Linked DNA regions of Homo sapiens. The protein of the gene in region 2 purifies or fractionates together with the protein of the main gene of each other region. This does not show direct contact. Each region holds a gene or a part of one and is shown on either strand. Other genes may lie near its edges.

Region 1 (3,648 bases), on a different chromosome or scaffold from region 2:
ATTAAATAAATAATTAGCCAGACATGGTCGTGTGCATCTGTAGTACTAGCTATTTAGGAGACTGTGGAAGAAGGATCACCTGAGCCCAGCAATTCACTTACAGTCAGCTATAATCATGCTGCTGCACTCCAGCCTGGGCAACAGAGTGAAACTCTGTATCAAAAAGAAAAAGAAGCTAGGCACGGTGGCTCAACCTGTAATCCCAGCACTTTGGGAGGCTGAGGCGGGCGGATCACCTGACGTTGAGAGTTCGAGACCAGCCTGATCAACATGGAGAAACACCATCTCTACTAAAAATACAAAATCAGCCGGGCATGGCGGCTCATGCCTGTATTCCCAGCTCCTCAGGAGGCTGAGGCAGAATTGCTTGAACCTGGGAGGAGTAGGTTGCAGTGAGCCAAGATCGCACTACTGCTCTCCAGCCTGAGCAACAAGAGTGAAACTCCGTCTCAAAAAAAAAAAAAGAATTTACTAATGTAGATAAAATAACACAACTACTGAGTACTAAAAAAATGCAAATTGAGATCAGAAAGAAATGCCATTTTACAACCACTAAACTGCAAAAATTAAACAGTCTGATAATACAAAGTGTTGGTGAGCGTGCAGACACTGCTATGGGACTTTACCAAATAGAAACAAGAAGACAACATTACAAAATTGTCTTGCGAGGATAAATACGGGTATCTCCTATAAACCAGCAATCCCTCTCCTAGGAATATACCCAAAATAAATCCTTATCCACGTGACAAGGAAGTTATGCAAAAATATTCATATTGTCTGCAGTAGCAAAACTAGAATCAATCTAAATGTCTATGAATAAAGCAAAGATCGTTTGAGAATTATTCAAGCAGCAATGAAAACTATATGCAACAACCTGGGCAAACAGAAACATGATACTGAACCAAAAAAATCTAATTTTAAAGACTCTACACTATGAAACCATTCAAAACTAAGCAAAAATAAACACTGTTCAAGGACTCATAAAAATGTAATTAAAATTTTTAAAAGCAACAAAATGAGATAACACATATTATCATTTAGGACACTGACAGGACGCTGGACACAACATATAAACAGTACTGGCTGTATTCTAGCTCTGAGCTTGAGTGGCAGGATAACAAGCAACTACCTTATTATTTTGCTTCATAACTTACGTATGTTACATTTTTCTTGTTAGTTCAATATTGGGTTCTTCGCAGTAGGAATAAATCAACATTAAATAAAACTTACATCTAATTCAAAAAACAGGTCTCTTTCTTTACTTGCAATCTCATAATCTGCTCGGAGGGCCAAGTCGTGGATTTTGGTACATTCTCCTAAATCCATGCGCTGTGGGAAAGAAACAGAAAATGCAGACCTCAGTGCCTACCTACTGTAGAAAGCACACAACGCGACTTGGTGTTTCAACTGTCACCAACAGAAATGATCACTTTTGGAACACTGACACTGCAATAAGAAAATTAAGAAAGGAGATATGGCTGAGAAGCCTCATTTCACTTTTACCATCGTGACTACGTGATACTTGAAACTGATGCATTTAATAGTGTAAAGTTTCTATTTTAGACCCAGAGATAATTGGACTGTAATCATCACAACTACATTAATTGGCTTTTGCCAGTTTTTAAGGAGTCTCACCTGTCACCCAGGCTGGAGTACAGTGGCGCGACCTCAGCTTACTGTAACCTCTGCCTCCGGGGTTCAGGCAATTCTCCTGCCTCATTCTCCCAAGTAGCTGGGATTACAGGCACGTGATACCACACCCAGCTAATTTTTTTTTTTTTTTTTTTTTTTTTTTTTTGTATTTTCAGTAGGGACAGGGTTTCGCCACGTTGGCCAGGCTGGTCTTGAACCTCTGACCTCAAGTGATACACCCACCTTGGCCTCCCAAAGAGCTGGCATTACAGGTGTGAGCCACGGTGCCTGGCCCAGTTTTATTTATGCATCAGTCCAAGGATTCAGTAAATGGCAGCATGTGGGGTGGCAGGGATAGGAAACGGCCAGGGCTGGGCGTGGTGGCTCACGCCTGTAATCCCAGCACTTTGGGAGGGTGAGGCAGGCGGATCACTTGAGGTCAGGAGTTCAAGGCCAGCCTGCCCAACATGATAAAACCCAGTCTCCACTAAAACTACAAAAATTAGCCAGGTGTGGTGGCAGGGCACCTGTAATCCCAGCTACCTGGGGAGCTGAGACACAAGAATCGCTTGAACCCAGGAGGTGGAGTTTGCAGTGAGCCAAGACTGTGCCACTGCACTCCAGCCTGGGTGATAAAGTGAGACTCTGTCTCAGAAAAGGGGAAAAAAAAAAGGAAAGGGCCAGAAAACAGTCTCACTGCAACAAATTTCTAGGCATTGTCTTGCAATCTTGACTACTTGAGATGCTCGATGCTTAAGATGCAGAGACAGAGGAAGAGGAAAGAGCGGACAGAAGTTAGATTTTGGCAATTACATCACAACCTAACACTTGGCTTTGTGTAGCTGATTGTGTATCAAAGGGAATAAAGGAGAACAGGCTGGTTCGTAGCCAAATACATGCTCTACACATTTTCTTAGCCTGGGAAATGACCCTGGACATCTAAGTGAGGACAGATAATTGTCCCACTCAGTTCCTCCATTTGACAAGCAAAACGTTCCATTACTAAAACAAAATGATTTATGTTGTCAGTAAGAACAGCATGATGTGCTATTATGTGTACCATATGCAGTACAATTAGAAAACAGTGTATGATTTTAATCTAAATCCTAAGTATAGGACTCTATGCAGACACCTTCTGCCTCTCGCCATCTACACAGCAACAGGGAGGTTTGTGTGCTGAGGATCATCGTGTCAAGTTATAGAGTGCATGTTAACAAAACCCAACATCCCAACTAGGAGACACCCCCAGTAGGACAAAAGAACATGTCTACATAACCAGAAAAAAAAAAAAAAAAAGACGTTAGTACCAGTTGCAGTGGCACATGTCTGTAATCCCAACACCTTTGGGAGGGCAAGATGGGAGGATCACTTGAGCCCAGGAGTTTGAGACCAGCCTGGGCAACATAGCAAGACCCTGTCTCTATGAAAAAATTAACAATTAGCTGGGTGTGGTGGTATGTGCCTGTAGTCCCAGCCACTTGGGAGGCTGAGGGGAAGAGATCGCTTGAGCCTAGGAGGTCAAGGCTTCAAGTGAGCTGTGACTGAGCCACTGCACTCCAGTCTGAGCAACAGAGACCCCTGTCTTTTTAATTTTTTTTTTTTTTTGAGATGGAGTTTCGCTCTTGTTGCCCAGACTGTAGTGCAATCTCGGCTCACCGCAACCTCCGCCTCCCAGGTTCAAGCGATTCTCCTGCCTCAGCCTCCCAAGGAGCTGGAATTACAGACATGTGCCACCACGCCCAGCTAATTTTGTATTTTCAGTAGAGATGGGGTTTCTCCATGTTGGTCAGGCTGGTCTCGAACTGCTGACCTCAGGTGATCCACCCACCTTGGCCTCTCAAAGTGCTGGGATTACGAGCGTGAGCCACCTCGCCCAGCTTTTTAAAGAGACCCCGTCTTTTAAAAAAAAAAAAAAAAAAAGAAAGGAAGGCTTTAAACCTTTAATCCATCTTGAGGGGGAAAAAAATAGAGAGGCTTGCATGTCTGACTCTTGGGATGCAGTCTCATAGAAAGCAT
Region 2 (3,648 bases):
CCCCAGCCTCGTAAGCATCCCCTACATGCTCCTATTCAGGGCATTTCCCAAAGAAGCAGTCAACACGCCATCTTAAGTGACTTATACACACACAGACTAGAAGTAAGAGCCACTTCCACTTCTGACTGCATCTCCAGTGCCTGGCAAAGAAATAAGCATGTGGAAAACATCAGAGCAGCAGAAGGGAGACTCCAAAATCCTCACTCTTTGCTCGGTACCTGACAAACCAATGTCATCCCCCCGTTCCCATTTGGGTCCTGCCCTGTTACAACACCTCCTACCAATTTCCCTTCACAGTTACTGGAAAAACAGAAGAAATCAAATGTGAAAGCTTACCATTTATCGTAAACATACTGTCTGTATACAGAACCAGTTTATTGATGTTTTGAGTCTTTGCTTGTTCAATGGCTTTGCAGGCTGCCTTGAAAAGACAAGTCGATAGTCATGCTACAGAAAATGTTCAACTCTGACATTACTAAAGTTCAAAAGTACTTCGAAATTGAAACATCCCCTCTGTACTGATTATATTCTCTGTATGAAACACTACTATACATACAATTCTCCTGTGTAGACATCTATTTGAAATAAGTTTTTAGAATTTTTCTACAAAATTCCTATTTTTCAAAATTGTTATTAAACCCGTCTCTCTTCAAATATCTTATATGTATAGGTAGAAAAAAAAAGAATTAGTTTATTTGATAATTTCATACTCAATGCTCAAAAAAGAGAGGCTTAAACGTATCTGATAACTTACATGAATTTCCGCTCTTTGGTTTGTCTGCCGCCCAGGAAGTCTAATGCCTACATTTCTGTTTCAAAACAGTACAAAAGAAAATAAAAGTATAAAGTGAATTCTCAAAGTGATTCTTCTTAATGGATAACGATAAACTAGTGTGTATTCTTATTTGAAATATAAAAGCATCATATAAAAATCAAACTAACAGACTCCCAGCAGAGAGCAGCACACAGGTTTCCACACTTGGGCACCTTCTGACTCTCATGGGTTCCACTAGGGCAAAGGAAGTAAAAGCTGGTTCTCTGCGGACCCTGGGTTAGGCCCTATGGCTGCAGCAGAAAGAATCCCAGGAGAAAACTCGGGAAGAAGAATGGAGAGAGTGAGACTTCAGATTGAAACTACTAAAAACCTCCAGGAAGTAAAAGAGGAAAATGAAATCAAGGAACCAGAAAAACCCTTAGACAAGTTATTTAAAATTTGGGGTCACCAGGAGATCCAGAGTTTCCTAAAAGAATGAGCAATTTTTGGGCCAGGGGTGGTGGCTCACACCTGTGATCTCGGCACTTTGGGAGGACAAGGTGGGAGGATCGCATGAGCCCAGAAATTTGAGCCCAGCCTGGGCAACATAGTGAGACTTCATCTCTACTGAAAAAAGGACTCCTCTTGGGAGGCCGAGGTGGGCGGATCACGAGGTCAGAAGATCGAGACCATCCTGGCTAACACGGTGAAACCCCGTCTCTACTAAAAATACAAAAAATTAGCTGGGCCTGGTGGCAGGTGCCTGTAGTCCCAGCTACTCGGGAGGGTGAGGAAGGAGAATGGCGTGAACCTGGGAAGTGGAGCTTGCAGTGAGCCGAGATCGCGCCACTGCACTCTAGCCTGGGCGATAGAGTGAGACTCCGTCTCAGGAAAAAAAAAAAAAAAGACTCCTCCCCAGGGCAAGAAAGAAACACCAAAGCCAGGTGCAGTGGCTCACACCCATAATCCCAACAGTTTGGGAGGCCAAGGTGGGAGGATCGCTTGAGCCCAGAAGGTGAAGTCTGCAGTGAGCTGTGTTTGTGCCACTGTACTCCATCCTGGGCAACAGTGTGAGACCGTGTCTTAAAAAAAAAAAAAAAAAAAAAAAAAGCAAAGGAAGTAAAGCTGAGGTACCTCACGTTCTGAAAAGCAATGCCGCTTAGCCCCAACACGAACCAAAGCTGCTCCTCTGCCACCCCTGCCAGAGCTACTTATCTGCAGGTTTTCCCAATAATCAAACAATGAGCAGATCCCGCCTCATCTTTTCACAAGTTGTGGAACATGATTCAGTAAAACTCAGCTTCGTTTAACTTACAAAGGATGGCCTGGCCCCCAGTAAACGCCGATTCCTGCTCGCGGCCTTCTACGCCCATTACTGGAGCAGCAGCCATCAGTGTAGACGACGACGAAGTCTCCTGTGGGAAAAGGAAGTACATGCTGCTGGGCTGACCTTACTAAAAACTGAAATTCACCTCAAAAATCCACTAGGTCGACTTAGCATTTTAAACCGAGAGGGTATTTTACAACGCTGCAGACGTTTTCTCTCTAGGAAAACATGCTCCATTCCTTACAAGGGGGCACCTAACATTTATGCTTGGAATCCACTTACATTTTGATCTTGCAGGCCAGGCAAGTTCGGGGTGAAGGCAATCACCTTGTAAAACTAGAGCCTGCTGCAGTAAAAACTACTGTTCACATCCCACACTGTGGGTTCAGAGGACAATGGCGCTGTCTCCACGGCAGGGTCACCTTCACTCCCAGGGAGCCATCCTCCAGAGACGAGCAGCGCCTCAGCATGACGGTGACCCTGCCTGCCAGAGGGCCCAGTCTCCTGACCAGTGCTGGTCTAATTTCTTCCCTGGCATATTTGCTGCTAGTTAAGTGTGGTTCCCGTCTTTGCTTCTTTCCCTCTAGATAGAGGGTATGATTGACACACAAAGGCTGTAAAGAACAAGGTAAAAAAGGACTGACGGGGGCATTCTCAGGCCACTGGTGACCAGGACACTTCAGTAGTGTGGTGGGATCAGAGGTCAGGTTGCACAGTGTTAAAAGAGCTGGGCGAGAGGGCAAATAGAGGTGGTACGCGCAGGAAGTGGAAGTACTTGTCCGAAGGACGGCAGACTGAGCTCAGCAGTGGCGAAGGGGCAAAGATGGGGATGTGCTCCTCACAGGAGCGGGGCTGAGAGCCAAGGGGAGTGTGGGTGTTGGGCAGGGCTCCTCCGTTCAGCTGGAACTTAACTGTATCAGCATGACTACAAGCTTCCCACCCAGCCACTGAACTGTCTCAGGAGCCAGCACCTGCTATCCGCCATGTTCCAGGCCACCAAGCCTCCAGCAATGGTCAGTGTCTGGAAACGGCTCATCTCCCTGCAACTCCACAAATCTTTGCTTCAATTCCTACTAGTAAATCACCAAATAAAGAATACTTGTTTGATCTTTTTTTACGTAACTGCAAAACATATCTATAAATAATACAGCTTGGCAAAACATTTTCTACTGGTTTCCCTTGAATTAAATTAGAACCTATAAATATACTGATTTATATTTTTTAATGCTTATTTCTACTTTCTGCTCATATGTGTAAAAGACACAAAGGAGAATTCTATTCTGTGAGTCACTAAATACATAACTGATTCCTGGAGTGAAAGGTAGCAGAAAAGTTCACTACTACCTTGCTTCTCAGGATAAAATAGAATCTCTTGTTTTCCAAAGATTGAATATGAAAGGTTAAAATGCTGGTGCTAATCAATTATAACAAGCAGCTGCGTGTGAGGTGTTATTTGAAAAAGCTGGAGTCTTCGCATTTCATCTTAACGTTAAGTACTGCATGCACAGGGAATACTAGTATTTCAAAAGATTACAGTTGTTCATTTACATGTAAGGGTTTTCCTAAG
Region 3 (3,748 bases), on a different chromosome or scaffold from region 2:
TTCTGAGGCTCCACCCACCGAGTCTTGGCCAGCGCCTTCCCCGACTTGGTGGTCTTGGGCCGGGTGGCTGCCACCTCCCTGCCAGGTCCCGTCTGGGGCACACCAGAGGCAGCACTGGGGCCCTCTGTGGCAGCCTCTTGGGCTGGGGCAGGTCTCTTGGGGCGCGGGAAGGCCATGCCACTGACACCTGCCGGCTGAGTGAAATCGAAGACATCATTCTGGCCCAGGAAGGCTGTGCTGGGCCGGTTGGCGTCCACCTCCCTGGCACACGGAGCCTGAGAGAAAGCACAGGCGCTACTAGGGCCCTCAGTAGCAGCCTCCTGGGCCGGGGAGCCTGTCTGGGACTGTGCGGAGGTTGCCGGAGCCTCGGGGGCAGCCATCTTACTGGTGACTAACATCTGGGAGGTCTGCGGAGAAGCAAGGGGTGGCTCAGGGGTGGGCCCCTGAGCCTCGGCGGCGTAGGTCGTGGGCTGGGTATCCTCTCCTGAGACCTGCGGCGTGGCCACCCGGTGGCTAGCGACCACCTGACTGAAGGCGGTACGGGCAGCGGCGGCAGCGGCCCGAGCCGCACGGTTGGAGGCGGCGGCGCGGGCTACGTTGGCAGCACGGGCGGCCGTCTCATTGGCAAGTGTTTCCGGATCCAGCTGCAATGCCTCCACCAGGGTCTGGGCCAGCACAGGGTTTTCCAGTTCCCAGGGCTCATTCTGCAAGGCCAGAGAGAGGGGTTGGGGAAGGCAGGCCACTCGACGACATACTTGTGTTAGCTTCCCTGTGCTGGCCAGCCTCTTCCCAGCAGTCAGCCCTGAACACCCCAAGACCTTCCCAAATCTTCTTCTTCCGAGCAGGGGAGGGAAGGCTTGGGAAGCTGGGCAGTCCTTTCCCACACAACCCTCCTGGCTCCCCCCTCCTCCCTCCCCCATTCACAGGGGAAAGGCCCAGGCCAGCAGGTGTCCAGGAAGGGGCCTCACCGATAAGATGCGAAGGCCTGGACCCAAGCTTCCGAAGGCTCTGAGGATATGGATGTCAAAGCTGGTGAGGGTGCCATAGCCACCAAACGCACCGAATTCTTCATAGTCGTTGCCTTCAACCATCTCTTCCTCCCCGACTTCGTCGCTACCCTCATCCATGTCTTCAACACTGTAGCTTTCCGATTGCACGCTGAAGCTTCCCTCAGCCATGCTGCGGGTCCCAGGGAGATGAGAGCTCAGCCTGAGAGGGAGGGTGAAGCAGCTGCAGGGGGAGGGGGCGGGATCCAATGGGAGGCGGGATCTCCCGGGAGGTGAGGGGCGACAATCATCAGGTTACTAGGCAATATTAGGCAGTAGGGGGCGGGGGGGGGGAGGAGGAGCGGGGGGGAGACGGTTTGGCTTTCTGATGGGGTAGACCTGGTCAGGGACAGAGCCCAAGGAAAGGGACAGAGGAGGTCGCAGGAGGCGCCGCACTGAAAGCGGAGTTTAGGATGGGCAGGCTCGCCATCCCAGCGGCTAGATTTGACGAGGGGGTGTTCTGGAGGGCTGGGGTCCGAAGAGTCCCAAAGGGAATGCATTGGGGAAGAGAGAAACAAAGGGTTTGGATTTACGGGCCAGAGAAGGGGACCGGGATGAAGGGGGAGCAGATGGGAGAGCTCAGACAACAGGGACAGTGGCAAGCCGCAAGCTCTGCGAAACAGAACCCCAGGGACCTTTGGCTAGGTCCGGGCGGGGGGCCTAGGTGGGGCTCAGACTCGAGCACTAGAGGCGGATGGAGTGGGGGCCTCAGACCTAGGTGAGGCTCCAATCGGAGCGCTGCAGATCTCAAACGCGAGGACTGGGCACTCCAGGAAGGGGGCAAGCGGTCAGCTCGGTTCGAGTAATCTAGGAGTGGTTGGGGTGGGGGTGGGGCCTCAGGTCCAAGGGAGCTCAGCTCGGAGCACACGGGTCTGCTAAAGGGGTGAGGATCCTGGGCTCCGGTTTCAGTAGGGCTCAGATCGGGGCGCCTGGGTCTGATGGTGATGGGGGCTCCTATCTAGACCTTGGGTCTAATGGGGTTCCGGTTCTGAGTGCTTGGGCTTTGTTCAGATCCGGAGGCGGAGGGAGGGCGCAGCGTGTCGGGTTCCACTCGCCCTCTCCCGGTCCTGTCTGGGGCTGGATCCTTACCTTCTCGGGAACTCCAATGGCGTCCGTCCTCAGCACCAGGAACCCCGCAGCCGCGCCCTCGCCTACTGCTGCCAGCACAGCAGCCCGGACCACCCCGCCCCTTTTCTCCGTGCACCCCCCGCGGCTGGGTAGCCTGCGCATGCGCGGACCCCTCCAGCCCGCCCGCTTTCCCAACAAAAGCCCTTTCCTCCAGGTCTCCAGTGCGCATGCGATTCCGCGGGTGGGTGGGCGGTGGGGTCGAAGGTAGGGTGCGGGGGGCTCTTCCCGCCAGATCCACTTCACCTCTCCTCCTCCTCCTCCTCCTACCGCGGGCGCGCACACTCATACCCTGCAGTGCAGCTCGACCCACCCAATCATCTCTTCTCAGTCCCCCCACTTTTGCACAATGCTTCTCTGTCCTGCCCTGCCCTTTCACCCAAACTCCTCCAGCCTGGTCTGGGATACACTATGCCCCGTTTCCCCGGCAAGACCCCTTAGGTCACAATTAGTGAGGTCTCACAATTAATAAGCTGGGTCTCTAACTGCAACAAGTGGAAATCCTCAACCTGCGGGGCTACGAAATGGACATGGCCAGAGGATGGCACTTCGCTTTGTGTGCTTCTCCACTAGCCAACTCTCTGGCCCCCAGACATACTGGGAACATCTGCTTCCTCAGCTACCCTTTATGCAGCTTGTATGTCACAGAGGGATCTGTGCTGGGGCTTTTCTTCCTCTCACAGCAGCGCTGGGAAGTGGATGTCAGCATCCCCATTTGGCGTGTCAGGAAGCTGAGGCACAGACACATTGCATGAACTAGACCACAGAGCCAGGAAACAGAAAATGCAAAATTTGAACCTGGGTCTTCCGGACTCCAAAGTCCACCTCCTGCTCCTGCTGGCCTGGGGACAGAGGCACCGCCTCCTCCGTCTGAGTGACAGGCCTCCCCCACCCCAACATCTGTCCCAAAGAAGCAAGGTTTGTGCTGTAGAAGGCCTAAGTTCATGCTCCGCATTCAGGACACAGGGAGACAGAGCCTCCCCCCGCCTCGCCCCCAGCCTCTGCGGCTCTATGTGGGTCCATCCAGGTATGAGAATTGCTCCACCGGGTCCACTCTCTACTCAGATTGTCAGGCCTCTTCCTTATCAGCGATACAATCACGCTGCCGCTGAGACCCTCCTGGTGTCCGCCAGGACAATTAGACACCTGTGTGTCTGAGCTAATTACTCCACAATCTACAAGCCCAGTTCAAACTTCACTTTTGAGGTCCAAGTGCATAGTACATTCACCTGCCTACGTGACATCTCCACTTGGATGTCTTTTGAGGCAGAAAATGCTGTGGTCTCATCTGCAGTCGAACCTGGACTGTTTGTAAAATTCGTAGTAGATTTTTATATTTGTTTTTATGTCAGCCTCACCAGGACCCCTGTGTATGAATGGAAGGTATTGCTAGGACAGCAGCTTTTACTCTCCGCTGACCAGTATCCATTCTGCCTGGCTCTGTGGTTTTCTCCAGCTGTTATATATCAATCTCTCCTGTCAGCTGCTTGTGCCTCTTTAGCCCTTCCCCTGTAACATATCCTCTGCGGGAGAGGAACACACCCTACAAACGAAAGCCTTCAGAAAGTGCTACGTGC

The links.
Region 1: the proteins of RNASEH1 (region 2) and LUC7L purify together in Homo sapiens (affinity purification with mass spectrometry; 3 studies listed by BioGRID and IntAct, with this or other methods). This does not show direct contact.
Region 3: the proteins of RNASEH1 (region 2) and MAGED4B purify together in Homo sapiens (affinity purification with mass spectrometry, with the first as the bait; one large-scale study listed by BioGRID). This does not show direct contact.

What each region holds. Positions count from the first base shown.
Region 1 is NC_000016.10:219,419-223,066, forward strand, and holds part of LUC7L (putative RNA-binding protein Luc7-like 1), read right to left. Parts: intron 1,330-3,648; coding exon 1,231-1,329; intron 1-1,230. UniProt on the Homo sapiens protein: May bind to RNA via its Arg/Ser-rich domain.
Region 2 is NC_000002.12:3,548,304-3,551,951, forward strand, and holds part of RNASEH1 (ribonuclease H1 isoform 1 precursor), read right to left. Parts: intron 2,170-3,648; coding exon 2,070-2,169; intron 810-2,069; coding exon 755-809; intron 422-754; coding exon 337-421; intron 1-336. UniProt on the Homo sapiens protein: Endonuclease that specifically degrades the RNA of RNA-DNA hybrids.
Region 3 is NC_000023.11:52,066,995-52,070,742, forward strand, and holds the start of MAGED4B (melanoma-associated antigen D4), read right to left. Parts: upstream 2,190-3,748; 5' UTR 2,136-2,189; intron 1,231-2,135; exon of another isoform or gene 1,210-1,230; 5' UTR 1,179-1,209; coding exon 969-1,178; intron 705-968; coding exon 1-704. UniProt on the Homo sapiens protein: May enhance ubiquitin ligase activity of RING-type zinc finger-containing E3 ubiquitin-protein ligases. Proposed to act through recruitment and/or stabilization of the Ubl-conjugating enzyme (E2) at the E3:substrate complex.